Linked DNA regions of Homo sapiens. The protein of the gene in region 1 binds, or shares a complex with, the protein of each later gene. Each region holds a gene or a part of one and is shown in the gene's direction. Other genes may lie near its edges. The genes, in order: DYDC1, DNAJB13, NME5 and LRRC23.

Region 1 (5,825 bases):
ATCATCCCTCACCATAGCATAGGTAGTCCCCTGCAAAGTACCACTCCCTCGCCCATTGCTCAGAGATGAGTCCACTCATGTGCTTTCCCTTGGCCTTCTTATGGCTGCAGACTCGCAATGTAAACTATCATGTGCAAAGGGAAGTTTGCTAGAAGGATTCTGGGTTGAAGGAAGGGTTTAACACATAAACTGTGAAGGACTCTGGTATCACTGGGCCTTTCAGACTTTGGGAGCAAGAGAATCAGATGCTACCAGGGCTCTCCCCTCTGCTGCTCCCTGGTTATTAGTTTCGCTCTTTCACTATGGGCTGCTTTGCTGCACATGGGTAGGGAACATGGGCCTTAACGGCTTCTGAGGCTTAGAATGTTGTGGCTTCTACCATCTAAGAGGAATGGATGCCTTGTTTTAGTTTCAGTTAAGAAAAGAATCTTGGAGAAGGATTCTGACTGGCTTAGTTTGTGTCAAATATCCATCTCTGTGGCAGGGGAGCATAGTCCTATAAGAATATGGATGTTCCCCATATAGCCTTGTGGATGCTGGATAAGAAGTTACCAGGAAAATGGAGTGGTCTTGGGAAAACAGTGCTGTTTATGTCCCTATCATTAGGGTGACCATATGTATGATCAAGAAATCACTGGTCTTCTAGCAGCCAAAACGAATCAGCTCAGGGTCAGTTAGGCCACCCTGCTGCTTTAGAATGAAAAGGTAGATGGCATAGCAAGGTTTGGCTGACTAGAAGAATGTTTCACATTCAGAAAGAGGCCTCCCTTATTGGGCAGTATATTCCTACTGCAGTGCTCAGAGTATTAAAGAGGGCATTGCTCAGGTCCTGTGGGAGGACTTGTGCATTGGGCCAGATTAGTTCCTGTAGAAGTGTTTACTTCTTTCTCGGTATGTGCAAAACTCTACTTAAGTGTGGTTTTCTCCTTAAAAATCTCTTGTTCTAAGGTTCTATTATAATTTTTATTTTGTCACTTTTTATATTGGCAGATAATTTGGCTTCAGTTTGACTGTTTCAGTCCATTTCATTTTTAAAAAACTTTTATTTAATTATATATAAAACATGGTTGCCTTCTATTAGTATAGAGTATTAAATAAGACTGTGATCTGCAGTTTTGTAATGTGTAATCAGATCATTCTCTTTCAGAGTGACAGCATTTTTGCTTTAAATTCATCATAGCATTGTGTAAAAGTAAAAATGCCAAAAATTAAACATGAAATCAAAATGGAGTATATTCAAAGTATTTTCTTAATTTTTATATATTATAGGAGATGAGAATGAATATGGAAAATCTAGTTAGGAATGAAGATATTCTACATTCAGAGGTGAGAAGAAAAAGTCATTCTATGTTATGTGAAATGAATTGAGTATCCTAGAATGTAAAGCTTAATTTTGATGCATAAGTAGCTAAATTTTTAGCAAGTATATTATCAAAACTGATAGTCCATGTATATTTTCCGGTGATAACAAGTCACAAATAATGTGCTTTGAAGCAAAATCTCACAATAGGTAAAAATTGGACATTCAGTTTGTGTTTGGATTTTTAAAAACTAGGCTCTCTTGAGATATTGAAGCTATTTACCACATAATTACTTACAATTATTTTAAATTTCTGCAGGTATTTTTAAAAAAAGTTCTAGTATTTATTACCAGAATTGTAGCTTTGCATTCTAGGATACTCAATTCATTACCAGAATTCTCTTGTCATTAACAGAAATTGGTTAATTCCACTAATTAATAATGTTGAATTTTAATGTTATAAATCAGAAAATTTTTAATCAAAATTGAAAGAAAAGTAATGTATTAATTTTGAAATCATTTAAAAGTAAAAATCAATTTTTTGATTGTAGGAAGCAACACTAGACTCAGGCAAAACACTAGCTGAAATCAGCGATCGTTATGGAGCACCTAACTTGAGCAGAGTGGAAGAACTTGATGAACCAATGTTTTCTGATGTCAGTATCAGTGTGTTTTGTGAAAAAACTCGTTTTTGTTTTTGTTTTTGATTTTTTTTACTTAGGTAAAGCCTAGGGAAAATGAGGCTAGGCCAGGATTGGTTGGCAAATAGGCCTTTTGCTTCAGAGAAAGAAAATCAGTTCCCTGGTTGCGGATTATATTCCTAATTGGCATTCTGCCCTTTTGTGAAGTGTGTCACTGGCTTATCTATATCTCCGTATCTGTGACTTCAAAACCTCTTCAAAATATGTTTTAAAATCATTTTGTGAAATATATAATCTTTAAATTTGGTGTGGGGGGCACGATTTTTGTTCTCAGTAGCAAACCCTGGAACCAAATTAATGCCTTAATGAGAATGCATGCTTCTCCAGTATGTAAGTACATTTGTTTATTTAAGAAACATGCCACATCTTCCATATGCCAGGCACTGTGCCTGATGCTGTGGTGAATAAGGCAGATGGCTTTGACCTTATGGAGTTTATTGTCAGGGGAGAAACAGACAATTAGATGAACATTTAATAGTCATGGTTAGTGGGACCACATAATTTATTGTCCAAACCAGTATGCTTTTGAGAATGAGAGCCGGATCAGCAGATGTAAGCCAGGACTGTCCTGGAAGAAGGGTACATTTTGGTCACTTTAATTGGTGTACACGGACAAGGGGGGACAGCCAGCACAGTTGAGGAACCTCAGTCAGGGAAGGAAGCTAATGATTTGCTACTCACTGGTGGCATGGGAGGCTGAGGATAGTGCTCCAGGCAGAGAGCATGGAAGGTGTGAAGACCCAGATAGGAGAGCGTGTAGAGGGAGTGAGGCAGGGAGGGGTGAGAGCTGAGGCCAGGGAGAAAGCAGGGGCCAGACCATGAAAGCACTTGTCATTTCTGTTCAGAGGCTTAGATTTTATCCTGAAGGCAGTGGAGACTCATATGATGAGAGCTACATTTTGCAAAGACCATCTGGTAACAGTGTGGGGAAGAAAATGGAGAAGTAGGTGTCAGGAGATGGCTTAGGAGGTAGTAATCTAGGGGACAAGATGTCGATGGCCTGAAGTAAATGTTGTTTTCAAGAGCTGTTCAGAAAATGGAGCTGCACAGACTCAGTGCTAATTGTTTAAAGTTTTATTAAAGGTCAGCTATGATTTGGCACTATGCAGGGAGCTAGAAAATGCCAATGAACAAAATGGATTGGGCTTCTGCCCTTGGGGGCCGTGGGCCAATGGGGAAGCTTCTTTGAGGGACAGAGTAGGGAGAGACCTGACCTGGGCTGGACAAGTCTTCCTCAGGAGGTGAAGTTCAAGGAATTAGCCTGAGATGAGCCCAGAGGAAAGAGACAGCAAAATGCTTTCAAGGGACTGAAGTCATCCAGTATTAATGGCTAACGTCCATGGAGCTAGGAAAATGGTGTGATTTTAAGCTGGAGAGGTGGATAAAGGCAGAGCACACTGGGTCTTGTATGTTGCCTTAGGGATTTTGGACTTAAGTGCAGTAGGAGTTATTGAAAGGACTTAAAGATTCAATCTGTGTTTTTATAAGGTGGAGAGAGGATTGGTGTGGAGCAGGAGTGGAAAAAGGGAGACCACTTAGGAAGTTATTGCACTGATCCAGATGTAAGATGACTAGGGTTAGACAGCAGAGATGGAGGGAACTGAGTGGATTTAAGATTGGCTTACAGGATCAGTGCGGGGCAGGGTCAGGATGAAGCCTAAATGTCTTCCTTGGGCTACTGAGTTAAGAGTGTTAACATTTGATGAGTTGATGAACATAAGAGGAAGCAGGTTTTTAAAAAATGATGGCTTCAGTTGCAGAGATGTTGACTCTCAGGTGGCTCTGAGATATGCAGGTGAAAACAGCCAAGAACAGTTGATGTTAGGAAGGGGCCCAGGCCGGAGATATAAATTCAGCAGTCATGGGCATATGTGCTGAATGAAGCAAGGGGATTGAGTAAGGTACCTAGGAGAGAGTGCAGTGTGTGAAGGCCTGGGGGCTCAGGGAGGAACCATTAGCAATTCTAACATTGAAGGGATGGCCACAGGAAGAGGAGCCTACAAGAAGGATGAGAATGCATAGTAAGAGAAGTAGAAGAAAGGATGGAACAATAACTACTTTGAGAACATAATTTATGGTTATATTCAATTTGAGTATCATTTGAAATCATCTGAAACTCCCAAAAAGTTTCATTCATGTAGTCACATAGAAGTTACCTAAAGTTTATTTCTTTGGCTTGTGCCTTTTCACAGTTCTAATTGTATTAAGGAATATTTACTTTTTGTTTTGCTTTTAGATTGCATTAAACATTGATCAAGATTTGTAGGACCAACCAACCTAAGAGCAATAAATGTTTTTGTTTGTTTCAAATTTCAAACCATGAGGTTCCCAATTTGTATTTTTTTCCTTCAAACTTGAACTCCCCTTTTTTTTTCCTCTAAGGACTGCTTATGAATGGGCTTCAAGAGTAGCCTCAAATTATTATTTTGGATCCTTCAGTTCAACTGGTTATTTATACATTTCCATTGGGAAAATAGGAGAGTTTGCTGAAGCAACCAAAAGAGGCAAATGGGAGGTGAGCTGAACTAATATGTGCGTCTATGCAAGAGCAAGACTGCCTGAGAGGACAGTTGCTGGCTGGGTGCAGTGGCTCACACCTGTAATCCAGCGATTTGGGAGGCCAAGGCAGGTGGATCACTTGAGGTCAGGAGTTTGAGACCAGTGTGGCCAACATGGTGAAACCCCGTCTCTACTAAAAATACAAAAGAAAATTAGCCGGGCGTGGTGGTGGGCATCTGTAATCCCAGCTACTTAGGAGGCTGAGGCAGGAGAATCACTGGAACCCAGGAAGCAGAGGTTGCAGTGAGCCAAGATCATACCACTGCACTGCAGCCTGGGTGACAAGAGTGAGACTCCGTCTCAAGAAAAAAAAAAGAAAAAAAGAAAAGAAAGTTGCTGGTCCGTGAGAAGTGAGTGAGGTGGCCATTGTGTAGGGCTCAGGAGGGTGTGCAACATGCTCTAGATGTGGTGTCTCCTCCTGGGTGTGAACTGCAGAGCTCTCCCCAGTTTGCTGGGAGCTGATGCTTCATAGAACCACTTAAGCCACACTTATATGATGGTGTTTAAGGGGGAAGAAGTGTTTCATCACTGTCCTGGTGGGGGAGTTTCCTCCAGCTTAGCTTGTTCCTCCACAGCCAGGAACAGATATGAGGACTTTCCCTTCCTCACCTTTCTGCCCAGCTGGGCGTCCGGATTCCTGTCTTCCTCTTTGGGGTTTATAAAGTCTAGGGATATTGCAGGATGTGTTCACATAGAGTGAATTGAATGGGATGAAACAAAGTTCTGGGGTGCAAAGAAGTATCATGTCTTCTGGCTCAATCAGTGGGCTCAAATATTGGGGCAACTGTTGGTGAGAAGATCTGACTGAATACAGGCCACACACTCCTGGCCCCTTTGAAGTTTCAGTTCTATCCTTAGACTCTGCAGAGAACCTTACTTCCTTTACAAAATTCTTCCAAATCTGTGATGTGAGTCCTTTCTATTCTTAAGGACATAGGTGCGAAAACGCAAATACCAAGAGAGGCTCCTTTAAAAAAAAATTCTATTTTGGCTTATAATGTACTTTTCCTGAGGCAATGAGTACAGAGTGGTCCTTTTGCCTAAATGGTGCTATCGTTTGAACGTGTCCCCCTCCCTTCCCAAATACAACTGTGTTGAGAGGTAAGACCTTTAAGAGGTGATTAGGTCATGAGGGCTCTGCCCTCATACATGGATGAATGCCATTGTCACAGAAGTGGGTTAGTTATGGTAAGAGTGGGCTTGTTATAAAAGTGAGTTCGGCCCCCTCTTGCTCTCTTGCACTTTCTTGTCCTTCCACCTTCAGC
Region 2 (8,674 bases), on another chromosome or scaffold:
TGGCCAGGCTGGTCTTGAACTCCTGACCTCAGGTGATCTGCCCACCTCGGCCTCCCAAAGTGCTGGGATTACAGGCATGAGCCACCGTGTCTGGCCGAGCCCTCCATTTTCTTCCTCAGAAGCAGCTACTAGGGAAGCAGCTATTAGTAAACAGTTTATGTATCCTTCCAGAAACTTGCCATGCTTGTATGAGCTGTATTTATTTTTACAGAAGCCTTTTATTAAGGAAATAGGGCCAAATTTTACACAATGATTTTTTTTTTCACTTAATATATCTTGGAGATTATCTTATATGTTATACTATATATAGATCTACTTTATTCACTTACATGCAAATCTATATACTATGTACAGATCTGCATAAGATTTCATTGTACAGATGTCTATTAGGGATCCATTGCAGAAGCAAATACTGTTTTAGCCACGTGAAGCAGAAAGGGGTTCAAAACAGGGAATTAGGTGCTTTAAAAAATCACCGAGGCCAGGTGTGGTGGCTCACTCCTATAATCCCAGCACTTTGGGAGGCTGAGGTGGCTGGATTGCTTGAGTGTAGGAATTCGGTGCCAACCTGGGCAACATAGCCAAACCCCATCTCTACAAAAAAATGTGCCAGGAATGGTGGTGTGTATCTGTAGTTCCAGCTACTCAGGAGGCTGAGGTGGGAGAATCGCCTGAGCCCAGGAGGTTGAGGCTGCAGTGAGCCAAGATCGGGCCACTGCACTCCAGCCTGGGTGACAGATTGAGACCTTGTCTCAAAAAAATAAAATACATAAATAAAGAAATAATCATTGAAAGGCCTGGGTGAGAAGGCTGTAAGCTGGCCCTGTAGGAAATCTTCCAAGAACACCACCTCTAAACTGGCCCACAAGGAGAGCTGCTGTCTCTGCCACAGTCACAAAGAAGGAATCAGGAAATGTCACCGTTGCATTCCAGAGCACACCATGAATGTAGCTGCAACTGCTGCCTCACTTGCCTCTGACAGGCATGAAACTCGTGGGTGGACCCACAAAGGCTGCTGCAGAAAAACCTAGTGTCTCCACAACAGTGCCCACCAGCTCCAGACAGAGCCACGGAGAGATGCCTGCCGCCTTCTTCCTGCCTCCCAAGCAGCTCAGGAACTACCTGATGAACAGAATTCAAAGCCAGAACCTTAGCTGCAAGAGAGTCTGGGGGATGTTCCTTTTGGCTCTACAGATTCTCTAGCAGGGAAGGTATGCAAGAAGGAGGACAGAGCAGATGCCAAGTGCCAGCATGGCTACCATGGATGTTTTATAATTTATTATTATTAAAGTCTTGCTCTGTTGCCCAGGCTGGAGTGCAGTGGCACAATCTTGGCTCACTGCAACCTCTGCCTCCTGGGTTCAAGCGATTCTCCTGCCTCAGCCACCCGAGTAGCTGGGATTACAGGTGGGCACCAGAATGCCTGGCTAATTTTTGTATTTTGAGTAGAGATGGGGTTTCCACTCAAGACTGGCCAGGCTGGTTTTGAACTCCTGACCTCAGGTGATCCGCCTGCGTCATCCTCCCAAAGTGCTGGGATTATAGGCATGAGCCACCATGCCAGGTCTAATTTATTATTTTTAATTACTGTCTTATTGATGGGTAGTTTCTTCCCAGTCTTTTGCTAATATTGTATTTGTGGGAAGATACCTCTTGTCTCTTTTGCAGTTAAAACAGTTCTTGTGCTATTTATAGTTTCCCTAATATGCTTGTCTCCCTACCAGACTGGGAGATCCTCCAGGTCTGATTGATCTCAGCGTAGCCAAATCCCAGCCTAGCATCTGACAAGAGTGAGTGTGGATGGGTGGATGCATGAAATGAAGGAAGGACAGATGGATGAATGGATGAGTGGGTGTATGAATGAATAGACGAGCACATGGTGGGTGGGTGGGTGGGTAGGCGGACGGATGGCTGGGTAAATGAATGGATGGCTGGGTAGGCGGATGGATGGCTGGGTAGGCGGAAGGATGGCTGAGTAGGTGGATGGGTGCGTGATTCCAGGTCTGAGACAAACTGACCAAGAGTTGATTTCTGAGGCTCAGAATCATCTTGCAAAGGCAGTGAAAAGACCTTCACACCTGACTTCCTGGCTCCAGTTATACCCACATAAGGCCTAGATTTTTCACTGCCTGTTTTCTCCTACACCTCTTGCCCCTTCTCCCTGACTATACTTCAGCCTTTCTGAACTTCATAAGTTCTTTCCTTCTCTTTTCTGTGCCAATATGTGGGTTACAGCCCCTCTGCCTCAGAGATTGCTCCCACCTTGTGCCACCCTCACGTGTCTGCCAGAAGAAGCTGAGTTTATAAGCTCCACGTGAGACTGAAAACAGCAAGGGGCTTCGAGTAGCGGGCCTGTTTCCAATCCATGCGCTGCCATTTGTGAACCGTGTGATCCTGGGAAAATTTCTTCACCCCTCTGAAACCCCAGCTTCCTAACCATTACATAGCCAAAATAATCATTAAGGCTCAAGGGCTATTATCAGATGAGATAATGTTTATGAAAAGGGGCTTTGCAATCGGCCGGGCATGGTGGCTCACACCTGTAATCCCAGCACTTCAGGAGGCTGAGGCCGGCGGATCACTTGAGGTCGGCAGTTCAAGACCAGCCTGACCACCATGGAGAAAACCCATCTCTACTAAAAACAAACAAACAAACAAAAACAAAAAAACAAAGCCAGGCACAGTGGTGCATGCCTGCAATCCCAGCCACTTAGGAGGCTGAGGTAGGAGAATCGCTTGAACCGAGGAGGTGGAGGTTGTGGTGAGCCGAGATTGCGCCATTGCACTCCAGCCTGGGCAACAAGATTGAGACTCTGTCTCAAAAAAAAAAAAGAAAAAAGAAAAAAAATGAAAGGGGCTTTGCAGTCCAAAAATGCCATACAGTGGACCTTGCCTCCCTACCTGTCTCAGTTCAAAGGAGCCAAGTGAGTCTACAGGGCATCGCTCATTGGGAAAGGTCAGGCTCAGGGTCTGGGCTTCCTCAGGCAGTGCCCAGAAGCTATACTGCCATAGTGCTCCACCCCAAGGGTTCCTGAGTCCCATCTCCCTGCAGGGTTGAGGGGCTGGGCTTCCTGTGGACTGGCTATTGGGGTGTTTACTGCCTGGTACACTGTAGGTCTGGGTGAACAAGTGAATTCAGCAATGCAACAGGAGGACCAGAAGATTCAGGCCTCTTGATTGCCCATCGCATCTTAGAGGGACATAGTGTAGTCACCTCACCATCCCTGCCTAAGGTCATTTCACCATTCTAGCCTGTGAAGTTCATTCCATGGCATTAACCATGAGAGGCAGAATATGAAAACTCTTAACCATAGCGCCCCTCGAGTTTACAGCTTATGAGGGGCTTCCACATCTAGCGATGCGGCGTGGCACAGTGGTTAAGGACACAGGTTCCGTAGTCATATTGTCCTGTGGTTCAGATCCCAACTCTACTGCTTACTAGCTACGGGACCTTAAGCGTTTTGTTTGGGCTCCCTGGACCAATGAAATAATAATGTAAGGTTCCAAAAATAGCACCTGACGCATAGTAAGCTCTCAGCAAGTTTTAGCTCTTCATCTTAATGGTGGAAGGCAGGTCAGGCATTATTACCCCATCCCACAGACCAAGACACTGAAGCCCACGGATCACACAGCACATCAGGGGCAGAGCCAGGATGGGGCTGTCTTTGCACTGGGAGGAAGGATGGGGGCAGCAAGAGGGGTTATGGGTGCAGAGCTGGGCAGGGGCAAAAGAAATTGAGGAAAGAGGAGTTTGGGGAATGCCGGTGGCCTCTCAAATTGTTAGGGACCAACCCTTTCCCTCCCCCATCTCAGCTGACAGCTTTATAGAAACTTGAGTCTGGGGTCTTTAGCAATCTTGGGCTGGGCTGGACAGCGAAGGGTTATGGAGTCTGGGGAAGAGTAGAGAGGACTGGCAGGCTCTCACCTTCCTGCCGAGGACTACCAGCAGTCTCTTCTGGCACTCCTGAGCGCGGCCACCAGAGGGAGTGCCTCCCTTTCCTGAGACAGCCAGAGTTACGGTATCCGAGTTGTGAATAAGAGAGACGGGGAAGCGTTGGGCGGGGTGGGGGGGGAATGTCCCAAGGGGAGGTGAAGCAGTGGGAAATGGCAAAGGATGATAATCACTGCATCTGCAGTTGAAGACAGCTCCTTGGCTTGGCCAGTCTGAGAGGTGGTTATAGGATGCTGGGTGTTACACAGGACACTGAAGAGGTTGGGGAGCATATCTGGATAGGGAGGCTGTGTGTGTGTGTGTGTGTGTGTGTGTGTGTGTGTGTGTGTGTGTGTGCGCGCGCGCGCATGTCTGGGTCTCTGGATACAATTTCTCTTACTCCTCTCCCTACCTCCTGCAGAGTTTTTTGATGCAGAAGGAAGTGAGGTAGATTTGAACTTTGGGGGGCTCCAGGGCCGAGGGGTCAAGAAGCAGGACCCCCAAGTCGAACGGGATCTCTACCTGTCCCTGGAGGACTTATTCTTTGGCTGCACCAAAAAAATTAAGATCTCCAGAAGGGTGAGTACTCAGCTTGCTCCTCCCGGGAGCCACCTATCTCCTGCAGCCTAGCAGCTGCCTCCTCCCTTACCTGGGTGGGAGGACTCAGGGATGGTCTCTGATGGAATTATGGAACCTTAGATTCAGAGACCTAGGATGTTAGAATTCCGGAATCTGAAATTCGGAAGGGACAGTTGAAGACATTAGCCCGGTTCTTTCCTAGTGCAGGAGTGCCCTCTGCAGCCTTCCCAACTGGGACAGGCTCTTTCCCTTCCTTTCTTTCAGTTCAGCCCCATCCCCGTGGGAACTGGAAAGGCTCTGAATGGGAGGAGTCTCTTCTGAATTCTTCCTTCTGGGCTTTACCAGACCATATTCCCAGGATTTCATCAGGGTGCATGCCTCGTGCATAAGAAAGAACAGTGGGCATGGAGGGTGGGCTGGGAGATAGTCCCCAAGGTGACGGGTTGAGGAAGACCCTCAGTGCCTCATGTCTAGTCCTTGGCTTGGCCCTGTCCCATGGCCCAGCCCTGTGCCAGGCATAAGAGCAAGCCCCCTCCACCTTTGCCCAGCAGAGGAGATGCCGATGCGGCCATGCTTTCCACAGATGGAACCCATCTGGACATGCGACTGGGGAGTGGAAGGATCCCCAGTGGGGAATGCACTGGGGGAGGCTTAGATATGTTGACTTTCATTTCTCTCTTTGGGATTAAGAGACTTGCTGGAGGCTCAGGGCCGGGCCTCTGGGATTTGGAGAGAGGAATGGAGTACATTTTCACCATGTATCTGTTAGTGGCCAGGGCTGGAGCTGTGTGTTTGATCAACTAATGGTGACTGCTTGGCATCTCAGCCCCCAGCCCCAGTCTCATGGCATCCTCTGCCATACTGGAATCATAAGTTCTTGGTTGTCATGGCAACAGGATGGGAGTGGGAGTGGCTCAGGGCAGGCTCTCCCCATTGCTGGAGGCTCTTCCCATTGCTAGAGGATTGAGCCCAAGTACAAATCCCATAGAGCATCTTTCACGTGTGCAAAGGTCACCTGAGTGTTCATGAAAATCTGAGCAAATCTCGACTGTACTCATGGAAGTCCTAAGCAGACCTCCCCACACCTGATATGTTGCTATAGGTGCTGAACGAGGATGGGTACTCCTCCACCATCAAGGACAAGATCCTGACCATTGATGTGAAGCCCGGTTGGAGGCAGGGCACACGCATCACCTTTGAGAAGGAAGGGGACCAGGTGAGGGGGGAAGAAGCTGACTCAGGTCAGTCACTGAGCTCAGGCGGTGGGAAGACTGAGGAGGAAAGGAAGGGAAAGGAGGCAATACTTTTTCCTGCCCCTGTGAGCCTTGGTCTGTAGAGAGCCCAGTCTGCAGAGTGGGTGAGATGGGATCCCTAATGTTCCTTCCAAGGAACAGAGCCTTAGCCTTACAGTGCTTCTGTGAACAGGCAGCCCAGGGACTGTCCCCATTTTACAGAGTGGGAAATGGGGGCCCAGAGAAGAAAGGGACTTGCCCAGGGCAAGAACATGGGAGCTGAAAGGAGATCCCAGTCTGAACTCCAGTGTTTTCCTGATTTTCTTCAGTGCTTCTCAGAATAAAGCCCAATTACAGGAGCTACTCAGAAACCATTTAATCATAATAATTTTATTTATTTATGTATTTATTTATTTATTTATTTTTATTTTGAGATGGAGTCTCACTGTCGCCCAGGCTGGAGTGAGGTGGCATGATTTCAGCTCATTGCAGCCTCCACCTCCTGGATTCAAGCAATTATCCTGCCCCAGCCTCCTGAGTAGCTGGGACTACAGGCATGTGCCACCACGCCCAGCTAATTTTTTTTTTTTTTTTTTTTTTTTTGAGACAGAGTCTCGCTCTGTTACCCAGGCTGGAAGGCAGTGGTGCGATCTCAGCTCACTGCAAACTCCGCCTCCCGGGTTCAAGTTATTCTGCTGCCTCAGCTTCCCCAGTAGCTGGGATTGCAGGCATGCACCACCACACCCGACTAATTTTTGTATTTTTAGTAGAGACGGGGTTTCACCATGTTGGCCAGGCTGGTCTTGAACTCCTGACCTCAGGTGATCCACCTGTCTCGGCCTCCCAAAGTGCTGGGATTACAGGCGTGAGCCACTGCGCCCAGCCACCCAGCTAATTTTTGTATTTTTATAGAGATAGGGTTTCTCCGTGTTGGCCAGACTGGCCTCGAAATCCTGACCTCAGGTGATACGCCTGCCTCGGCCTCCCAAAGTGCCTGGGATTAAAGGTGTGAGCCACCGTGCCTGGCCTATTAATAATAATTTTAAATTAAATACTATTTAAATAAAAACATAAATTTATTGTCCAAGGCGTGCTGAATCCTTAAGTCCTGAGAAGAGGCATTCAGAGCCAGGGAAGACACATTCCTTTGCCTGCACTTTTTGCCCCCTTTCTCACCTATGAAACATCTACCTCCGGTCTGGCCTGGTGGCTCACACTTATAGCCTCAGCACTTTGGGAGGCCAAGGCAGGAGAATCACTTGAGCTCAGAAGTTTGAGACCAGTCTGGGCAACATAGCGAGACCTTGTCTCTACTAAAAATAAAAAATTTAGCTGGGCATGGTAGTGTGTGCCTGTGGTCCCAGATACTCAGGAGACTGAGGCAGGAGGATCTTTTGAGCCGAGGAGGTCAAGGCTGCAGTGAAGTATGATCATGCCACTGCACTTCAGCCTGGGCAACAGAGCGAGATCCTGTCTAAAAACAAAACAAACAGACAAAATACAAATAAAACATCTACTTCGAATAAACACGCTTCAAAACCCAGCTCCAGTGTTCCCCGCTCTGGGCAGCCTCCTCTGAGCCCCAGCCTCTGGGCCTCCCTTTATCATGTCTTGAGCGTGCTGAGGATTCACTGTCAGTGTTAGGGGCCAGTCTGATTCCTCTGTCCCCAGCGCCCAGAAGAGACCTCAGCAGAGTTTTGGTGACTTAATGAAGTTTGGGACAGGGGTGTCATGCCTGGAGTTACTAGCAAGACAGAGACATACGGGCAGTTGCCTGACGCCCAGCTTAGTGTTCCACCTGCCTGCCGTCTGAGGAAGCCTCTCCGCCCCTCCAGCTGAGTGTGTCTATTTTGGGCATGCTCAGTACAGAAGTAATTCTGGGGGGATTCATTTGGGTAAGCTTCTCGGGCTTCTAATCCATCTGGGCTATGGGGGCCAAACTGAAAAGGCCCTTCCAGAAAACCTGCTCTCATCTCCCCATTGTACAGATGAAGACATGGAGACAAGTAGAGGCAGGAACTTGGCCAAGGTCACACGGCCAACTAGTCCTTGTCACCTTTTGGCGTCCCCTGCCCAGGGCCCCAACATCATCCCAGCAGACATCATTTTCATCGTAAAGGAGAAGCTACACCCTCGCTTCCGCAGGGAGAATGACAACCTCTTCTTCGTGAACCCCATCCCTCTTGGCAAGGTGAGTGGGCAAAGTGCAGGAGCAGCGGGGAGGAGATCAGAGTGAGCCCTGCCTGCCCCGGCCTAGACTTGGCCTCCCCTCCCACAACCACCTGCCATCAGTCACTAAGCCCTGTGGATTCCACCCTCTAAATCACCATCCACTTGGTCCCGTCTGCTCATCTGCACCGCCTGGATCTGTACACCAGATCTGCGCAGCAGGCCTTCCTCCCCACTTCTCATCTCCTCCAGGCTCTTCTCCTTAGGGATCCTGCCACACACTCATCAGACCCTGCCACACTCCTGTCTAAACATCTTTGTGCCACTGGAGGCCCTCTGCGATCTGCTCCCTGCTTACTCCTTCCCCTGCACTCCCGCCCCTTCGCCGCATAGCACCCTGCCTGTGTGGCGCATTGTCACACCTCCGTTCTCATTTCTGCTGGGCCCTCTCCCTGGAATGCTGTCTATTCACCTGACCCTATAGGGTCCTCATCAATAGCTACCACCACTGCTACCACTTCCTGCCCCACTCCTGAATGGTTTAGGGGCCTCTCCTTGGCTCCCACAAACGCTTTTATTCTGTCTCCATCATTACATTTATACAACATCCATCTTACCTGCCAGATCCATCCATCTTTCCTGCCAGTGCAGAAAATTGCATGGGTCATTCACCTATTAGTTATTGAACAGCCTCGTCTCCCTTGTGCCCAACTCACAGTCTGGCACTGGACAGGTTCCTAAGGTGCCTTCTAAATAGGAGAGC
Region 3 (8,674 bases), on another chromosome or scaffold:
ATTGCTAAGACAGTAGATTTTAAGTGTTCTCACCACAAAAAAAGATAAGTATTTGAGGTAATGCATATATTAATTAGCTTGATTTGTCTTTCCATAGTGTTTACATATTTCAAAACAACATGTACACAATAAATGTATACAATATTTCTTATCTATTAAAAAATTTGTTGTGCTCACTTCAGCACATATGCTAAAATTGGAACGATACAGAGAAGATTAGCTTGGCCCCTATGCAAGGATGACATGCTTTTAAAATAAAAAGAAATTTTAAGTACACTTATAAGTTAAAAAAAATTTGGGGGACCAGGGGTGGTGGCTCATGCCTGTAATCCCAGCACTTTGGGAGCCTGACATGGGCAGATCACTTGAGGTCAGGAGTTCGAGACCAGACTAGCCAACATAGTGAAACCCCATCTCTGCTAAAAATAAAAAAAAATTAGCCTGGCATAGTGGCATGCATCTGTAATCCCAGCTACTCAGGAGGCTGAGGCAGGAGAATTGCTTGAACCCAGGAGGCAGAGGTTGCAGTGAACCGAGATCGCACCACTGCACTCCAGCCTGGGCAACAGAGCAAGACCATGTCTCAAAAAAAAAAAAAAATTAAAAAAATTTTTGTTTAATGATTAGTACCTGATAAATTGGCATAATGAACTTTATATAATATATGAATAAAACATTTGCCCATATTGAGAAAAAATTGTATACATTAATTGTGTGCAATTTTGTGTACATGAGTAATACTTCAATAAAGCTGTAAAAAGGAAAATTCCATTCACAATGACATTAAAAATAATATAATATTTAGGCACAATTTTTTTTTTTTTTTTTTTTTTTTTTTTAGAGACAGAGTTTCGCTCTTGTCACCCAGGCTGGAGTGCAGTGGCCCGATCTCAACTCACTGCAACCTCTGCCTCCTGGGTTCAAGCGATTCTCCTGCTTCAGCCTCCCGAGTAGCTGGGATTACAGGCGCCCACCACCACGCCCAGCTAATTTTTTGTATTTTTAGTAGAGACAGGGTTTCGCCACGTTGGGCAGGCTGGTCTCAAACTCCTGACTTCAGGTGATCCACCCGCCTTGGCCTCCCAAAGTGCTGGGATTACAGGTGTGAGCCACCACGCCCGGCCATATTTAAGCATAAATTTAATGAAAGTGCAATTCTTGTACACTGAAAAACAAAGAACATTGCTGAGATAAATTTTAAAATAAATAATAGATATTCCATATTAATGGATTGGAAGACTCAATATTGTTAAGATGGCAATTCTTTCTAAATTAATTAACAGTTTTGGGTTGGGTGCAGTGGCTCATTCCTGTAATCTCAACACTTTGGGAGGCTGAGGCAGAAGGATTGCTTCAGTCTAGGAGTAGGAGACCAGCCTGGGCAACAAAGTGAGACCTCATCTCTACAAGAAAAAAAAAATTTAAAGAAAATTTTAATGTAATCCTTTTAAAAGTCCATGCATACTTTTACGTAGACATTGACAAGCTGAGTTTAAAATTTAGCAAAATTGCAAATAATTCAATTTTAGAAAAGAAGAACAAAGTTGGAAGACTTCCACTATCTGATTTTGAAACTTACTGCAAAGCCACAATTATAAGACGGTATGACAGTGATATAAAGATACACATATAGATTATTGGAACAGAATTGAGGATCTAGAAGTAAACTTTTACACTTATGGTCAATTCACTTTCAACAAAGGTGCCTAGACAATTCAGTGAGAAAAGGATGGTCTTGCCAATACAGTCCCCAACTTACCATGGTTCAAGTTACAGTTTTTTGACTTTACTATGGTGCTTTCAGCTGTGTACATTAATGGCGAGTATCCATACAACCATTCTATTTTGGTTTCCTTTTTTTTTGAGACAGGGTGTCTCTCTGTCACCCAGGCTGAAGTGCAGTGGTGCCCACTACAGCCTGACCTCCTGGGCTCAAGCATTCTCCCACCTTAGCCTCCTGAGTAGCTGAGACTAGAGGCATAGACCACCATGCCTGGCTACTTTTTGAATTTTTTTGTTGTAGAAAGGCAGTCTCGCCATATTGCCCAGGCTGGTATTGAACTCCTGGCCTCAAGAGATCCTCCCCCAAAAATGATATATATATATATCTTTTTTTTTTAAGAGACAGAGTCTTGCTTTGTTGCCCAGATGGTCTCAAACTCATGGCTTCAGGTAATCCTACTGCCTCAGCCTCTCAAGGAGCTAGGACTACAAGTGTGAACCACTGTGCCCAGCTCATAATATATGTATATTATATAGAAAATGTTATTTATATAAAATTTGCTTTGTGTTAGATGATTTTGCCCAACTGTAGGCTAATGTAAGTGTTCTGAGCACATTTAAAGTAGGCTATGCTATGCTATGATGTTCAATAGGCTAGGTGTATTAAATGTGTTTTTGACTTACTGATACTTTCAACTTATGATGGGTTTATTGGGATGTAACCCATGTAAATTGAGGAAAGTCTGTATATGGTGCTAGGACAGCATGATAGTCACATAAAAACAAAAAGAACTTAGACCCTTGTTTCATAGCATACACAAAAATTAACTCAAAATGGATCACAGACTTCAATGTAAAAACATCTAAAAGAAAACAAGAAAATCTTTGTAACTGGAGTTGGACAAAGACTTCTTAAAATGACATCAAAAGCAAGATCCATAAAAGAAAATATTGATAAATTGGACTAAATCAAATTAAAAGCTTTTGTGCTTCAAAGGACATCATTAAGAATGTGAAAAGAGGCTGGGCGCGGTGGCTCATGCCTGTAATCCCAGCACTTTGGGAGGCCGAGGCAGGCGGCTCACAAGGTCAGGATATCAAGACCATCCTGGCTAACATGGTGAAACCCCGTCTCTACTAAAAAATACAAAAAAATTAGCCGGACTAATTAGTGGCGGGCACCTGTAGTCCCAGCTACTCAGAAGGCTGAGGCAGGAGAATGGCGTGAACCCAGGAGGCGGAGCTTGCAGTGAGCCAAGATCGCGGCACTGCACTCCAGCCTGGCGACAGAGAAAGACTCTGTCTCAAAAAAAAAAAAAAAAAAAAAAGAGCTGGGAGCAGTGGTTTGCACCTGTAAATCCAGCTATTCAGGAGGCTGAGGTGGGAGGATTGCTTGAGGCCAGGAGTTTGAGACCAGCGTGAGTGACACCCTGTCTCTAAACACTTAAAGAAAAAAAAAGCTGGGTGTGGTGGCACACACTTGCAGGCCCAGCTACTTGGAAGGCTGAAGCCAGAGGATGCTTCAGCCCAGGAGTTCGAGGCTGCAGTGAGCTGTGCTCACACCACCACACTCCAGACTGGGCAACGGAGCAAGACCCTGTGTCAAAAAAAAAAATAGAAGTTAAATTTTTAAAAATATGAAAAGATAGGTAGGCAACAGACTGGGAAAAAATATCACCAAATAATATAAAGAACTTGTAACTAGAATATATAAAGAACTCCTATGTCTAAATAATAAGAGAAACATCCCAACTGAAAACTGAGGCTGGTTCTACTCAGGAGGCTGAGGCAGGAGAATTGCTTCAACCTGGGAGACGGGGTTGCAGTGAACTGAGATTGTGCTGCTGCACTCCAGCCTGGGTGACAAGAGTGAAACTCTGTCTCAAAAAAAAAAAAATAAAGAAAAGAAAAGAAAAAGAAAACAGGCTGGTTGCAGTGGCTCATGCCTGTAATCTCAGCACTTTGGCAGGCTGAGGCAGGCAGATTATTTGACGTTAGGAGTTCAAGACCAGCCTGGCCAACATGGTGAAACCCCATCTCTACTAAAAATACAGAAATTAGGGCCGAGCATGGTGGCTCATGCCCGCAATCCTAGCACTTTGGGAGGCCGAGACAGGAGGATTACCTTAGATCAGGAGTTTGAGACCAGCCTGGCCGACATGGTGAAACCCTGCCTCTACTCAACGTACAAAAATTAGCCAGGCATGGTGGCACACTCCTGTCTACTTAGGAGGCTGAGGCAGGAGAATCACTTGAACTCAGGAGTTGGAGGTTGCAGTGAGCTGAGATTGTGCCACTGCATTCCAGCCTGGGCAACAAAGCGAGACTCTGTCTCAAAAAATAAAAATAAATAAAAATACAAAAATTAGCAGGGTGTGGTGATGCGGACCTGTAGTCCCAGCTACTCGGAAGGCTGAGGTGGGAGAATCACATGAACCCAGGAGGAGGTTGCAGTGATCTGAGATTGCATCATTGCACTCCAGCCCAGGCAACAGAGTAAGACTCCATCTCAAAAAAACATATAAAAAAATAGAGAAAAGTTCTTTAAAAAGAACCTTTTTAATGATTGTATAGTATTTAATCATTATGTTTGCATCAATGAGAATACATTTGTATTTGCAGTGATTGTTGAGCCCATTCCAATTGGACAAGCTGCTAAGGACTATTTAAATTTACATATAATGCCAACTCTGCTTGAAGGACTCACAGAGCTTTGTAAGCAAAAACCAGCAGATCCTTTGGTAAGAAATATTTTTATTCACACTTAAGAATATTGTCACCAGGCGTGGTGGCTCATGCCTGTAATCCCAGCACTTTGGGAGGCCAAGGCGGGCGGATCCGAGGTCAGGAGTTTGAGACCAGCCTGACTAACATGGTGAAACCCCGTCTGTACTAAAAATACAAAAATTAGCTGGGCGTGGTGGCATGTGCCTGTAATCCCAGCTACTCAGGAGGCTGAGGCAGGAGAATCACTTGAACCCAGAGGCAGAGGTTGCAGTGAGCCGAGATTGTGCCACTGCACTCCAGCCTGGGTGACAGAGCAAGACTCCATCTCAAAAAAAAAATTTTTTTTTCTATAAATTGTCTGTAGTTTTCACGTTTAAGACATTGTGTCTTTGAAATACTGCGAATATAGCTGGGCGCAGTGGCTCACGCCTATTATCCCAGCACTTTGGGAGGCCGAGGTGGGTGGATCACTAGGTCAGGAGATCAAGACCATCCTGGCTAACACGGTGAAACCCCATCTCTACTAAAAATATAAAAAATTAGCCGGGCGTGGTGGTGGGTGCCTGTAGTCCCAGCTACTTGGGAGGCTGAGGCAGGAGAATGGCGTGAACCCAGGAGGCGGAGCTTGCAGTGAGCCGAGATTGTGCCACTGCACTCCAGCCTGGGCAACAGAGCGAGACTCCATCTCAAAAAATAAATAAGTAAATAAATGAAATACTGCAAATATTGAGAACCTTTTTAAAATAAACATTTCTAGAAGGTATTTCATATACATGTTAGATATGTATAATTATTGATTACTTATTATTTTCTTGCTGTGTTTTATTTATTTATTATTATTATTTTTTGAGACGGAGTCTCACTCTGTTGCCCAGGCTGGAATGCAGAGGCGCAATCTGGGCTCACTGCAACCTCCGCCCCCCAGGTTCAAGTGATTCTCCTGCCTCAGCCTCCTGAGTAGCTGGGATTTACAGGCGAACACCACCACGCCCGGGTAATTTTTGTATTTTTAGTAGAGACAGGGTTTCTTCATGTTGGCCAGGCTGGTCTCGAACTCCTGACCTCAGGTGATCCACCTGCCTTGGCCTCCCAAAGTGCTGGGATTGCAGGTGTGAGCCACCGCGCCCGACCTATCTTTCTTTTTTTTTGTAGCCATGCTAGTAGATAACACAAAATGGTTTCTCACGGTGGTTTTGATCTGCATTTCCCTAATGGCTAATGTTGAACATCTTTTCATGAGCTTCTTGGCCATTTGTATACCTTCTTTGAAGAAATGTCTATTCAAATTGAAGTCCTTTGCCCATTTTTAAACTGGGTTGTCTTTTTGTTGAGTTAAAGTTCTTTGTATTTCTAGATGTTAAACCCTTATTAGATATATGATTTGCAAATATTGTCTTCCATTTTGTAGGTTGTCTTTTCACTTTCTTGATAATGTCCTTTAATGTATAAACATTTTTCATTTGATGAAATCCAATTTATTTATTTTTTCTTTTATTTCTTGTGCTTTTGATGTCATGTCTAAGAATCCATTGTGAAATCCAAATCCAAGGTCATGAAAATTTACCCCTGTGTTTTATGTTTTCTTTTAAGATTTTTTTTCTTTCCTTTTTTTTTTTTTTTTTTTTTTGAGACAGGGTCTTTGTTCCCCATGCTGGAGTCTGGTGGCGCCATCTCGGCTCACTTCAACCTCTGCCTCCTGAGTTCAAGTGATTCTTGTGCACCAGGCTGCCAAGTAGCTGGGACCACAGGAGCACACTACCACACCCAGCTAATTTTTAAAATTTTTTGTAGAGATGGGGTCTCCCTATGTTGCCCAGGCTGGTCTTGAACTCCTGGTCTCAAGTGATCTTCCTACCTCGGCCTCCAAAAGTATTGGGATCACAGGTGTGAGTCACTGGCCTCTTTTAAGATGTTTATTGTTTAAGCTCTTATATTTAGGTCATTGGTCCATTGTGAGTTCATTTTTGTATATGGTGTGGTATAGGGGTCCAACTTTATTCATTTGCATGTGGAAATCCAATTGTCCTAGTACCATCTGTTGAAGAGACTGTTCTTTCTCCAAGTCCAGTGGTACCAATGGGCTTGGTACCATTGTCAAAAATTTGTTGACCATAGATGCGTGGGTTTATTCCTGGATTCTCATTCTTTTTTTAAAATATGAAATGCTTAATAAATTGTGCATCATCCTTGCACAGGAGCCATGCTAATAATCTCTCTGTATCATTCCAGTTTTGGTATATGTGCTGCCGAAGAGAGCACTGGACTCTCAGGTCCATTCTATTGGTCTGCATGTCTGGCATAAGGATGTCATTACCACACTGTGCTGACTACTGTAGCTTTGTAGAAGGTTTTGAAATTGAGAGTACAAATCAGTCCTCCAACTTTGTTCTTTTTCATGATTGTTTTGGCTCCTCAGAGCCCCTTGCAATTTCATATGAATTTGAGGATTGGCTTTCCATTTCTGCAAAAAAACTTGTTGGACATTTGGCAAGAGCTGCACTGAATCTGTAGATTGCTTTGGGAAGTATTGACATCTTAACAATATCAAATCTCCGTATCCATGAAAAATAATGTCTTCTCATTTATTTAGGTATTCTTTAATTTCTTTCAGCAATGTTCTACAGTTCTTAATGTATAAGCCTTTCGCTTCTTGGGTTAAATTTATCCCTTGGCATTTTATTTGTCTTTATGCTACTGTAAATGAAAGTGATTTAAAATTTTTTTTTGGACTGTCATTGCTGATGTATAGAAATACAGTTGATTTTTGTGTATTGTAACCTACATCTTCGCTGAATTTATTAGCTGTAGTGGCTTCCTTGTAAATTCCTTAGGGTTTTCCACATGTAGGTTTATGCCATCTGTGAAAAGAGATAGTTTTACTTCTTTCTTGCCAGTTTGGATCTATTCTTGACAATCTTGCATAATGTAAATCCAAATGTTTCCATTTTTAATGGTCATTTTCTTAAAGTGATTTTGAAAACTGTTTAAGTTTCCAATTGATATAGTATATATTGAAAGGAAATATGTAACTGTTTCTTAACTTAGGTTGTTTTTTTTTTTCCCATAGATTTGGCTAGCTGATTGGCTGCTGAAAAATAATCCTAACAAACCCAAACTTTGTCACCATCCAATTGTAGAAGAACCTTATTAAAAAAAAAATCCTCGAAAGAACAAATCATGAACTATCTTATTATAAAAGGCTGTACTTCTACTGTTTGAAAAAATTATTTCTAGGGTTTAAGTAACTACAAGTAAAATAAATTTATTTCTTAAAAATAAGTGTTAAAGGAATAACTATTCTATGAAGCAGATAACATTAAGGTAAAATATAGGCTTAGAGTATGATTTTAACAATGATGTAACACTAGGTAATGGAAAACTCATGTAAGATGTTGCTAGATGTTTTTGTTTTTCTTAAGTTTGAGAAGTAAGACATAAAGTTTAGTTATACATTTTCCCAAGCACATATCCTATATCTAAATACATAATTAATGCACAGTTGAGACAGTCTAGTTTAAAAGGCTTAGGTCCTTTTGTAGTCCATAAGCATGGTGATTTGGTTTCATGCTCATGTGTCAGATATGCTTCCCTCAAACCTTGTTACAGCATCATCACATTACCTGTTTGATGTAAAAAATAAAAAATAGAAAGGTGTAAGTATATAAGTAATTTTTTGGTACAATGAAAATGGCCAGAACCAGGGGATGATCTTAAACTAATCACTTGGATAACTATTAGGCTGGTGCAAAAGCAATTATGGTTTTTGTCATTAAAAAACAATGGCAAAAACCACAATCACGGCCGGTCTTGGTGGCTCACGCCTCTAATCCCAGCACTTTGGGAGGCCGAGGCGGGTGGATCACGAGGTCAGGAGATCGAGACCATCCTGGCTAACACGGTGAAACCCCGTCTCTACTAAATATACAAACAATTAGCCGGGCGTAGTGGCGGCGCCTGTATTCCCAGCTACTCGGGAGGCTGAGGCAGGAGAATGGCGTGAACCCAGGGGGCGGAGCTTGCAGTGAGCCGAGATCGCACCACTGCCCTCCAGCCTGGGTGACAGAGCGAGACTCTGTCTCAAAAAAAAAAAAAAAAAAAAAGAGAAAAGAAAGTATAATGTAAGAAAATGTGAAAACAGAAAGATTGTTAGCTGAAAAAAAGTATGTTACAAAGCAATATGCACAGTGTACGCCCATTTGGTTTTGGTTTGGTTTTGGTTTTTTTT
Region 4 (8,582 bases), on another chromosome or scaffold:
GATACGCAATATGATTCATTATGACAGTTCTACATGCTAACCATATAGGATCCAATAAGACAAGGAACGTCCCTATTCTCATATAGCTTATATTCTAATTGGGAGAGACAAACAAGTAACAACAAACACAGTAAGTACATTCATGTAGCATGTTAAAAGGAGACAAGTGCCTTGGAAAAAATAGATCAGAGTAAGAGGAATGGGGGACACAGGTGGCAATGTCAAATAGATTGGTTAGGACAACCATCACTGAGAAGATGACATTTGAGCAAAGAATTGAAGAAGGAGAGGGAATTAGACATGTCAGCTGCTTCATTCACTCTTCAAAGGCTTAGGTGGATATGTCCATCAGGACCTTGGACTACCTACCACACCACTTGCCTCAGGGCTCCAGAGGTATTAAGTCTGGAGCTGGCCTTCCTCAGTATCTACCCTGCTTTGCGAATGGTAGGATGATTTAGAGGCTCCCCAAATTCAGGCTCTAATGCTGAGCATTTGGAGTGGCCCTTTGAGCTCTTGAAACCCTCCTCCCCAGGGAACAGCATCCACATGGTGACAGGTCTGGACCCCGAGAAGTTGATCAGCCTGCACACAGTGGAGCTTCGGGGGAACCAGCTGGAAAGCACCCTGGGAATCAATCTTCCTAAGCTGAAGAACCTCTACCTGGTAGCTCACTGGGTCAGAGGGTGGTGCAGGGAAGAGGGCACTGTCCTGGGGGTCAGGATGCCTGCTTTCTAGTAGGCTCAGCTACTAACTTCATCATTATGATAATAACTGGTATTATTATCAAGACCATAGTTGGTTCCAGATGCTGTGGAGATACACAGCCACCTAGCAGGGCTGATAATATATAATGTGTGGATAATACAGAGATAATTTACCTTGATACAGGTAGTAGCAAAATGGACCATAATTGAGGTACAAACATCAGTCTGTGGAAATGTTTTAGGAAAACCCTCCTCTCAGACTGGGTTTTTCTTCAGCTCTTACACTACCACCACAACAATCATCAACATACGACTTCCGGGACCAAAGGTGTGGGGGTTTCTCCCCATACACCAAGTAGTAGACACCAGCTGGGTGATCTCTAATTCGATTCACTGTCTACCTGGGGATGGCATCAAATCCCACAGATTGAGGGCTCGGTTCCCAAGAGTGACCCCTACACCGCCCACATACACCAGTTGCAAGTCCAAGCCTCCAGAACTTCTGACACACCAGCTTCAACATGAAGCTGGTTCCCATGACCTCTTCTCTGGATTTAATTAATTTTCTAGAGTGGTTTTTATTAGTTTATTGCAAGGGCAAAGGATACAGATGAAGAGATGCTTAGGGCGAAGTATGGGGATATGGGTGCAGTGCTCCATGCCCTTCCCAGATGCATCACCCTCCAAAAGCTTTCACGTGTTCAGCTACCCAGAAGCTCTCTGGACCCAGTCCTCTTGGCTTTTCATGGAAGCTTCATGATCTTAGTATTCCTTCCCCCAGGAAACTGGGGAGGCTGTCGCTGGGGAGGGTCTTAAGAACCACAATCAGGCCGGGCGCGGTGGCTCATGTCTGTAATCCCAGCACTTTGGGAGGCTGAGGCGGGCGGATCACCTGAGGTCCGGAGTTCGAAACCAGCCTGGCCAACATGGCGAAACTCTGTCTCTACTAAAAATACAAAAATTAGCCCAGTGTGCTGACATGCGCCTGTAATCCCAGCTACTAGGGAGGCTGAGGCAGCAGAATGGCTTGAACCCAGAAGGCAGAGTTTGCAGTGAGCTGAGATCACGCCACTGCAATCCAGCCTGGGAGACAGAGCAAGACTCCATCTCAAAAAAAAAAAAAAAAAAAAAAAACCAAAGAAAAACACGGTGAAACCCCGTCTCTACTAAAAATACAAAAAAAAAAAATTAGCTGCGTGTGGTGGCAGGCACCTGTAGTCCCAGCTACTCGGGAGGCTGAGGCAGGAGAATGGCGTGAACCCAGGAGGCGGGGCTTGCAGTGAGCCGAGATTGCGCCACTGCACTCCAGCCTGGGCAACAGAGCTAGACTCTGTTTCAAAAAAAAAAAAAGAAAGAATCACAGTCAGAAAGAGGGAGTGGGGGGAAAGATTAGCGCTTTCTCTTGGAGCAGGTGAAAAGACGGCTGGAGAAGTTCCTGAGACCTGCCCCTGAGGCCCAGCACACCCAACTTTATAACAAAAGACTGCAAGAAGGGCTATTATGGGGGTTATAAGCTAGGGACTGTGGATGAAAACCGATATATATATTATATATTATATAATTATATATTATATATAAATATATATTATATATTATATAATTATATATTATATATAATATATAATTACATATAATATATAATATATAATTATATATTATATATTATATATTATATATAAAATATATAATATATAATTATATATTATATATAATATATAATTATATATAATATATATAATTAGATATAATATATAATTATATATTATATATAATTATATATAATATATTATATATAATTATATATAATACATAAATATATATAATAGTATATATTATATATAATATATATAATATATAAATATATATAATAGTATATTATATATAATATATTTTATATAATATATAAATATTATATATAATAGTATATTATATATAATATATAAATATTATATATAATAGTATATAATATATAATATATAATATATATTTTATATATTATATAATATATTATATATTATATATATAATAACTCCACAGGAAGCCACTGAAATATTTAGTCTTTTAGACTCTTAAGCTTCGTTATTCTGGGATGGTGCTGATGCCAATCCTCAGTGGTGGCCTGGGGGCTCCTGGGCCGGGTAGGGGTGGGTTGAAGCATCTCCTCCATCCCAAGTGGCTTTGATGGGGCGAATGGTAGAGGGTTACTGCTGACCTTTCTCTGGGATGGCAGCTTCTCCTGAACTTCTTTACTTTCTATACTGATCTCTACTCACCCCCACTCCTTTCTTCCACTCCTCCCTCTCTACCTCTTGGATTTCCTCTTTTGCTTTATCTCATTCTGACTTCTCTTTCTTCCCTATCCCTGCTCCCTCTCAATCAATCCACTGTGCCCTGGGGGTCTAGGCCCAAAACATGCTGAAGAAGGTGGAAGGCTTGGAGGATCTGAGCAATCTCACCACCTTGCATCTTCGAGACAACCAGATTGACACCCTGAGTGGCTTCTCCAGAGAAATGAAATCATTGCAGTACCTCAACCTGAGGTATGCACCCTCTCCAAGCCCCACCTTGCCCCTACCCCTGACCAGGTGCAGCTTTTGAGTCTGTGTTCTTCCCTGGCCCAATCCCCCAGTCCTAGCCCACAGCTGGATTCTCAAGGAAAGCCCGGCTTTCCTTCCTTTCTTCTGCACTGAGTTGCAACACTAAATCCCTTATAGCTTGTGACCCCTGAATTTTTATTCATTCAATCCACAATTATTGAGAATGTGCTATGTGCCAGGCCTTGTGCTGTGTTTTGGGGACATTTAAAGCAATCAGAGGCTGGGCATGGTGGTTCATGCCTGTACTCCCAGCACTTTAGGAGGAAGGATCACTTGAGGCCAGGAGTTCAGGACCAGCCTGGGCAACCTAGTGAGACCATGTTTCTACAGAAGTGAAAATAATGGCCCGGCATGGTGGCTCACACCTGTAGTTCTAGCACTTTGGGAAGCCGAAGTGGGCAGATCGTTGGAGCCTAGGAGTTCAAGACCAGTCTGGGCAACATGGCAAAATCCCATCTCTACCAAAAATACAAAAATTAGCCAGGCATGGTGACAGGCACCTGTAATCCCAGCTACTCAGGAGACTTAGGCGGGAGGATCGCTGGAGCCTCGAGGTGGAGTTTGCAGTGAGCTGAGATAAAGCCGCTGCACTCCAGCCTGGGTGACAGAGCCAGACCCTGCCTCAAAAACAAAACAAAAATAAAATATTAAATAAAAATTAAAATATTAAATTAAAAATAAAAATTAACTGAGCCTGGTGGTGCACACCTGTGGTTTCAGCTACTCAGGAGGCTGAGGTTGGAGGATCACTTGAGCCCAGGAGTTCAAGGTTGCAGTGAGCCATGATTGTGCCACTGCACTCCAGCCTGGGTGACAGAGTGAGCTGTCTCTAAAAGAAAGAAAGGAATCAGAGGTGATTCCTGTTCCTAAGGGGCTCACAGTCTGGCTCCAACTCTTTTTTCCTCACCCTATCCTATATAAGTTTCCACTGCCCTTCTCCATTTCCTCGGTCCCAATTCACCTTCCCATTTCCTGCCTCTCTTCTCCTGAGCCCCACCTGTAAGGGATGACCTTTTTACTGATTAAAAAAACACAAGATGTGCTCAGATTTGAGGAGAGAAGGACATTTGTAAGAAAATCTTTTGGTAGAAAGGCACTGAAGATCAGCAACTCTTGTCGGATGGAGGACTTTATGTGTGTTTATTTCAGCAAACATGTAAGGAAACTGCCTCTTTCCTTAGTCAACAAGACCAGATTCTTGAGCTGGTAATGGAAAGAGCATCTCCAAGTAGGGAGAGGTGGTTGCATCTGGAAGCCCCAACTCTCATCCTGACCCCCTGGGCATTCTCTTATTCATGAACTCTGCCACACGGATCTGGTGGGGTGTGTATCTGTGCCATCTTCCTGTTAATGATCTAGACAGGCATGATGGACCCTTCCTGAGTGGCTATTAAATGGGGATGTTTTGAGAGTAAGTCGGGTGTGTGTGTGGAGGGGGGTGAGGGTGTCTCAATGATTGGCAGGTGCCTCTGGGGCCAGAGATGCTAAGCATCCAACAATGTATGGCAGAGTCCAGTACAAAGTTCCTGTAGCCCTCCTGGTGAGAAACACTGCATGAGGCTCAGCACGACCATGAGATCAGGCTGAAACACTTAAATAGATTTCATAAAAGCTTAAAGCCAGAACATGAAAATAAATAAAATTCCAGGCATGGTGGCTCACGCCTGTAATCCCAGCACTTTGGGGGGGCCAAGGCAAGAGGACTGCTTGAGGCCAGGCGTTCAAGACAAACCTGGGCAACATAGTGAGACCCAGTCTCTACAAAAAATTTAAACATTAGCCAGGTGTGGTGGCACATGCCTGGAGGTACTTAGGAAGCTAAGGTGAGAGGATCACTTGAGCCCAGGAATTCAAGGCTGCAGTGAGCTATGATCATGCCACTGCACCCCCAACCGGGGTGACATAGTGAGACCCTGTCTCAATAAAAATAAAATAAAAACAGAGTATCATATAATGAGGCACATTAGGAGATGAAGTTTATTCTTCAGGTTGGGAGGCTCCAACCCATCCATAGCCTTAGGTTCTCTTTGTGGAGAGCACGAACCGAGCATCCACCACCCTAAACTCCAGCTTAGATCCCAGTTCCTTGTCCACTGACCTAGGTCCTACAGGGTGGAGTGCAGTGGCTCGATCTCGGCTCACTGTAATCTCAAACTCCTGGGGTCAAGCAATCCCTCCTCCTCAGCTAAGTAGCAAGGACTACAGGTGTATGCCATCACGCCCAGCTAATTTTTTTATTTTTAGCTTTTGTACAGATGGGGTCTCGCTATGTTGCCCAGGCTGGGTCCTACCTTCTACCCTCCATTTAGGTGTGATCACAGAAAATGTCTCTCCCTGTGAGGAAAATTTGCCCTCTCCTCCCCAGCTACAAGACAGGGTTGTGGCCTAGCTTTGCTGCACCAAAAGAACACATGAATGTATTACAGAGTAGAATATGGCACTTAGGGATTCCTTGAAGGGCAGAAGCAGGACCAGAGCGGGGTCACACAGCACCTCTGCAGTAAATCTGGCAAGGCTTGGCAGGCCAGTCCTCACAGTGTTTCTAGGGACACTGGAACCCCGAGAGTCCCCCAGAGGCCCCATTCCTAGCAACTGGCAACCAAAGCCCATTATTCCTGCATGAACCCCTCCTGACCACACTGGCAGGGGCAACATGGTGGCCAACCTGGGGGAGCTGGCCAAGCTTCGAGACCTGCCCAAGCTGCGAGCGTTGGTGCTGCTTGATAACCCATGCACGGACGAAACCAGCTACCGCCAGGAGGCCCTGGTGCAGATGCCATACCTTGAACGCCTGGACAAGGAATTCTATGAGGAGGAGGAACGGGCTGAGGCTGATGTGATTCGACAGAGGCTGAAGGAAGAAAAGGAGCAGGAGCCTGAGCCCCAGCGTGACCTGGAACCCGAACAGTCATTGATCTAGCAGCAGTTCTAGCCTCTAAAGATAGTAAGGAAGCCTGCAGGGAGGCAGTGGGAGGAGGCCAAGGGCTGGGCAGGTAGGGGAAGAGGCAAGAGGGGAAGCTGCTGCAGAAGGAGGTGGGAGAGGAAAGCATCAGACAAGCAGGACCCTTAAAGAGAGGAGGGTTAGGAGTCAGGGAGAGGAAAAGGGACCCAAGGGGCCTGGGACCAGCTGAGAAAGACTTAGGAGGCCAGAAGAGTAAGTGAAAAGAATTGGGGTGGCAGGCAGAGGAGTTGGTGGGGGGTGGGGCAGCCATACCTGACACAGAGTGAAGTCGGCTAGGAAAGGACAGGTGTGGGTGCATGGTAGGGGCTGCAGGGGAAAGTTGGTGGTGTATGCAGCTGGACCTAGGAGAGAAGCAGGAGAGGAAGATCCAGCACAAAAAATCTGAAGCTAAAAACAGGACACAGAGATGGGGGAAGAAAAGAGGGCAGAGTGAGGCAAAAAGAGACTGAAGAGATGAGGGTGGCCGCCAGGCACTTTAGATAGGGGAGAGGCTTTATTTACCTCTGTTTGTTTTTTTTTTTTTTTTTTTTTTTTTTTTGCGAGGTAGTCTTGCTTAGTCTCCAGGCTGGAGTGCAGTGGCACAATCTCAGCTCACTGCAACTTCCACCTCCTGGGTTCAAGCAATTCTCCTGCCTCAGCCTCCCGAGTAGCTGGGACTACAGGCGCATGCAACCGCGCCTGGCTAATTTTTGTATTTTTAGTAGAAACGGGGTTTCACCACGTTAGCCAGGATGGTCTGGATCTCCTGACCTCGTGATCTGCCCGCCTCCGCCTTCCAAAGTGCTGGGATTACAGGGGTGAGCCACAGCGCCTGGTCCCTATTTACTTCTGTCTTCTACCTCCAGGAGATCAAAGACGCTGGCCTTCAGACCTGATCAGACTCCCAGGGGCAGCCACCACATGTATGACAGAGAACAGAGGATGCCTGTTTTTGCCCCAAAGCTGGAAATTCATCACAACCTGAGGCCCAGGATCTGCTCTGTGCCGGTCCTCTGGGCAGTGTGGGGTGCAGAATGGGGTGCCTAGGCCTGAGCGTTGCCTGGAGCCTAGGCCGGGGGCCGCCCTCGGGCAGGCGTGGGTGAGAGCCAAGACCGCGTGGGCCGCGGGGTGCTGGTAGGAGTGGTTGGAGAGACTTGCGAAGGCGGCTGGGGTGTTCGGATTTCCAATAAAGAAACAGAGTGATGCTCCTGTGTCTGACCGGGTTTGTGAGACATTGAGGCTGTCTTGGGCTTCACTGGCAGTGTGGGCCTTCGTACCCGGGCTACAGGGGTGCGGCTCTGCCTGTTACTGTCGAGTGGGTCGGGCCGTGGGTATGAGCGCTTGTGTGCGCTGGGGCCAGGTCGTGGGTGCCCCCACCCTTCCCCCATCCTCCTCCCTTCCCCACTCCACCCTCGTCGGTCCCCCACCCGCGCTCGTACGTGCGCCTCCGCCGGCAGCTCCTGACTCATCGGGGGCTCCGGGTCACATGCGCCCGCGCGGCCCTATAGGCGCCTCCTCCGCCCGCCGCCCGGGAGCCGCAGCCGCCGCCGCCACTGCCACTCCCGCTCTCTCAGCGCCGCCGTCGCCACCGCCACCGCCACCGCCACTACCACCGTCTGAGTCTGCAGTCCCGAGGTGAAGCCCCCGCCAGGCCCAGAGCCCCTGTGGCCCCCTCCCTTCGCCGCGGCGCCCCTGCCTCCTTTACCCGGTGCCGCTGCGCACCTCTCCGCATCTCTGGCCCGGTGCAGCTGCGCACCTGCTCCGCCGCCCGCGCCCAGGGCGCCTTCCCTCCCTGGCCTTCCCCGCCCGCTGCCTTCGCTTTCTGGCCCTCTGCGCGCCTATCTCTAACTGCGCCTCTCCACCCTTGCCTGCCTCTCTCCCGGTGCTCGCCCTCATCTACGGTTCTATTTGTTTCTAAGTTGGGAGCCTCTCCGGGCGGTGCATTTTTATCCTAGAGCGTCCCTTTTGGTTTGCATTTGGGGAAATGTCTTCTCTCACCGTTCCTCACCTCCCCCAGACTTCCCTTGGACTCCCCTCTCTCCTGCTCTTCCCCACGGCGCCCCTCTCCGTTCGCGCTTCCTCCCCTCTGCTGCACGGGGGAGAGATGGAAGAAGTGGGGATCTGTCGAGGCGCAGAGGGGAGGACAGGCCCAGCTCGCCTCCACTCCCCACCGGCTCTTATCCTCTTCACTTCCCGCTGCAACCCCCAGGGACTGCAGGGCCTTTCTCAGGACCCTCTTCCCCGACACCTGTATTGCATGCGCCTTTCGCGGGAAGAGGAGGGATACACGTTTGGGAGAGAGTGGGACCTTGGGGAAGGGGCAGTGTTCAGGCAGCT

Evidence for each region.
Region 2: DYDC1 (region 1) and DNAJB13 share a complex: the UniProt entries of both Homo sapiens proteins name them as parts of the axonemal radial spoke complex.
Region 3: DYDC1 (region 1) and NME5 share a complex: the UniProt entries of both Homo sapiens proteins name them as parts of the axonemal radial spoke complex.
Region 4: DYDC1 (region 1) and LRRC23 share a complex: the UniProt entries of both Homo sapiens proteins name them as parts of the axonemal radial spoke complex.

The regions. Positions count from the first base shown.
Region 1 is NC_000010.11:80,334,598-80,340,422, reverse strand, and holds the end of DYDC1 (DPY30 domain-containing protein 1), read left to right. Parts: intron 1-1,269; coding exon 1,270-1,326; intron 1,327-1,851; coding exon 1,852-1,956; coding exon of another isoform or gene 1,957-2,007; exon of another isoform or gene 2,008-4,237; coding exon 4,238-4,267; 3' UTR 4,268-4,318; downstream 4,319-5,825. UniProt on the Homo sapiens protein: Functions as part of axonemal radial spoke complexes that play an important part in the motility of sperm and cilia. Plays a crucial role during acrosome biogenesis.
Region 2 is NC_000011.10:73,960,526-73,969,199, forward strand, and holds part of DNAJB13 (dnaJ homolog subfamily B member 13), read left to right. Parts: intron 1-982; coding exon of another isoform or gene 983-1,203; exon of another isoform or gene 1,204-1,338; intron 1,339-4,352; coding exon 4,353-4,510; intron 4,511-4,519; exon of another isoform or gene 4,520-4,811; coding exon of another isoform or gene 4,812-4,880; intron 4,881-5,612; coding exon 5,613-5,726; intron 5,727-7,413; coding exon of another isoform or gene 7,414-7,446; exon of another isoform or gene 7,447-7,819; coding exon 7,820-7,933; intron 7,934-8,674. UniProt on the Homo sapiens protein: Functions as part of axonemal radial spoke complexes that play an important part in the motility of sperm and cilia.
Region 3 is NC_000005.10:138,114,607-138,123,280, reverse strand, and holds the end of NME5 (nucleoside diphosphate kinase homolog 5), read left to right. Parts: intron 1-4,344; coding exon 4,345-4,463; intron 4,464-6,678; coding exon of another isoform or gene 6,679-6,960; exon of another isoform or gene 6,961-7,516; coding exon 7,517-7,600; 3' UTR 7,601-8,106; downstream 8,107-8,674. UniProt on the Homo sapiens protein: Functions as part of axonemal radial spoke complexes that play an important part in the motility of sperm and cilia. Does not seem to have nucleoside diphosphate kinase (NDPK) activity.
Region 4 is NC_000012.12:6,906,780-6,915,361, forward strand, and holds the end of LRRC23 (leucine-rich repeat-containing protein 23), read left to right. Parts: intron 1-535; coding exon 536-666; intron 667-3,110; coding exon 3,111-3,247; intron 3,248-5,950; coding exon 5,951-6,224; 3' UTR 6,225-6,248; intron 6,249-7,111; coding exon of another isoform or gene 7,112-7,292; 3' UTR 7,293-7,450; downstream 7,451-8,582. UniProt on the Homo sapiens protein: Essential for sperm motility and male fertility. Plays an important role in the proper assembly of the third radial spoke (RS3) head and the bridge structure between RS2 and RS3 in the sperm flagella.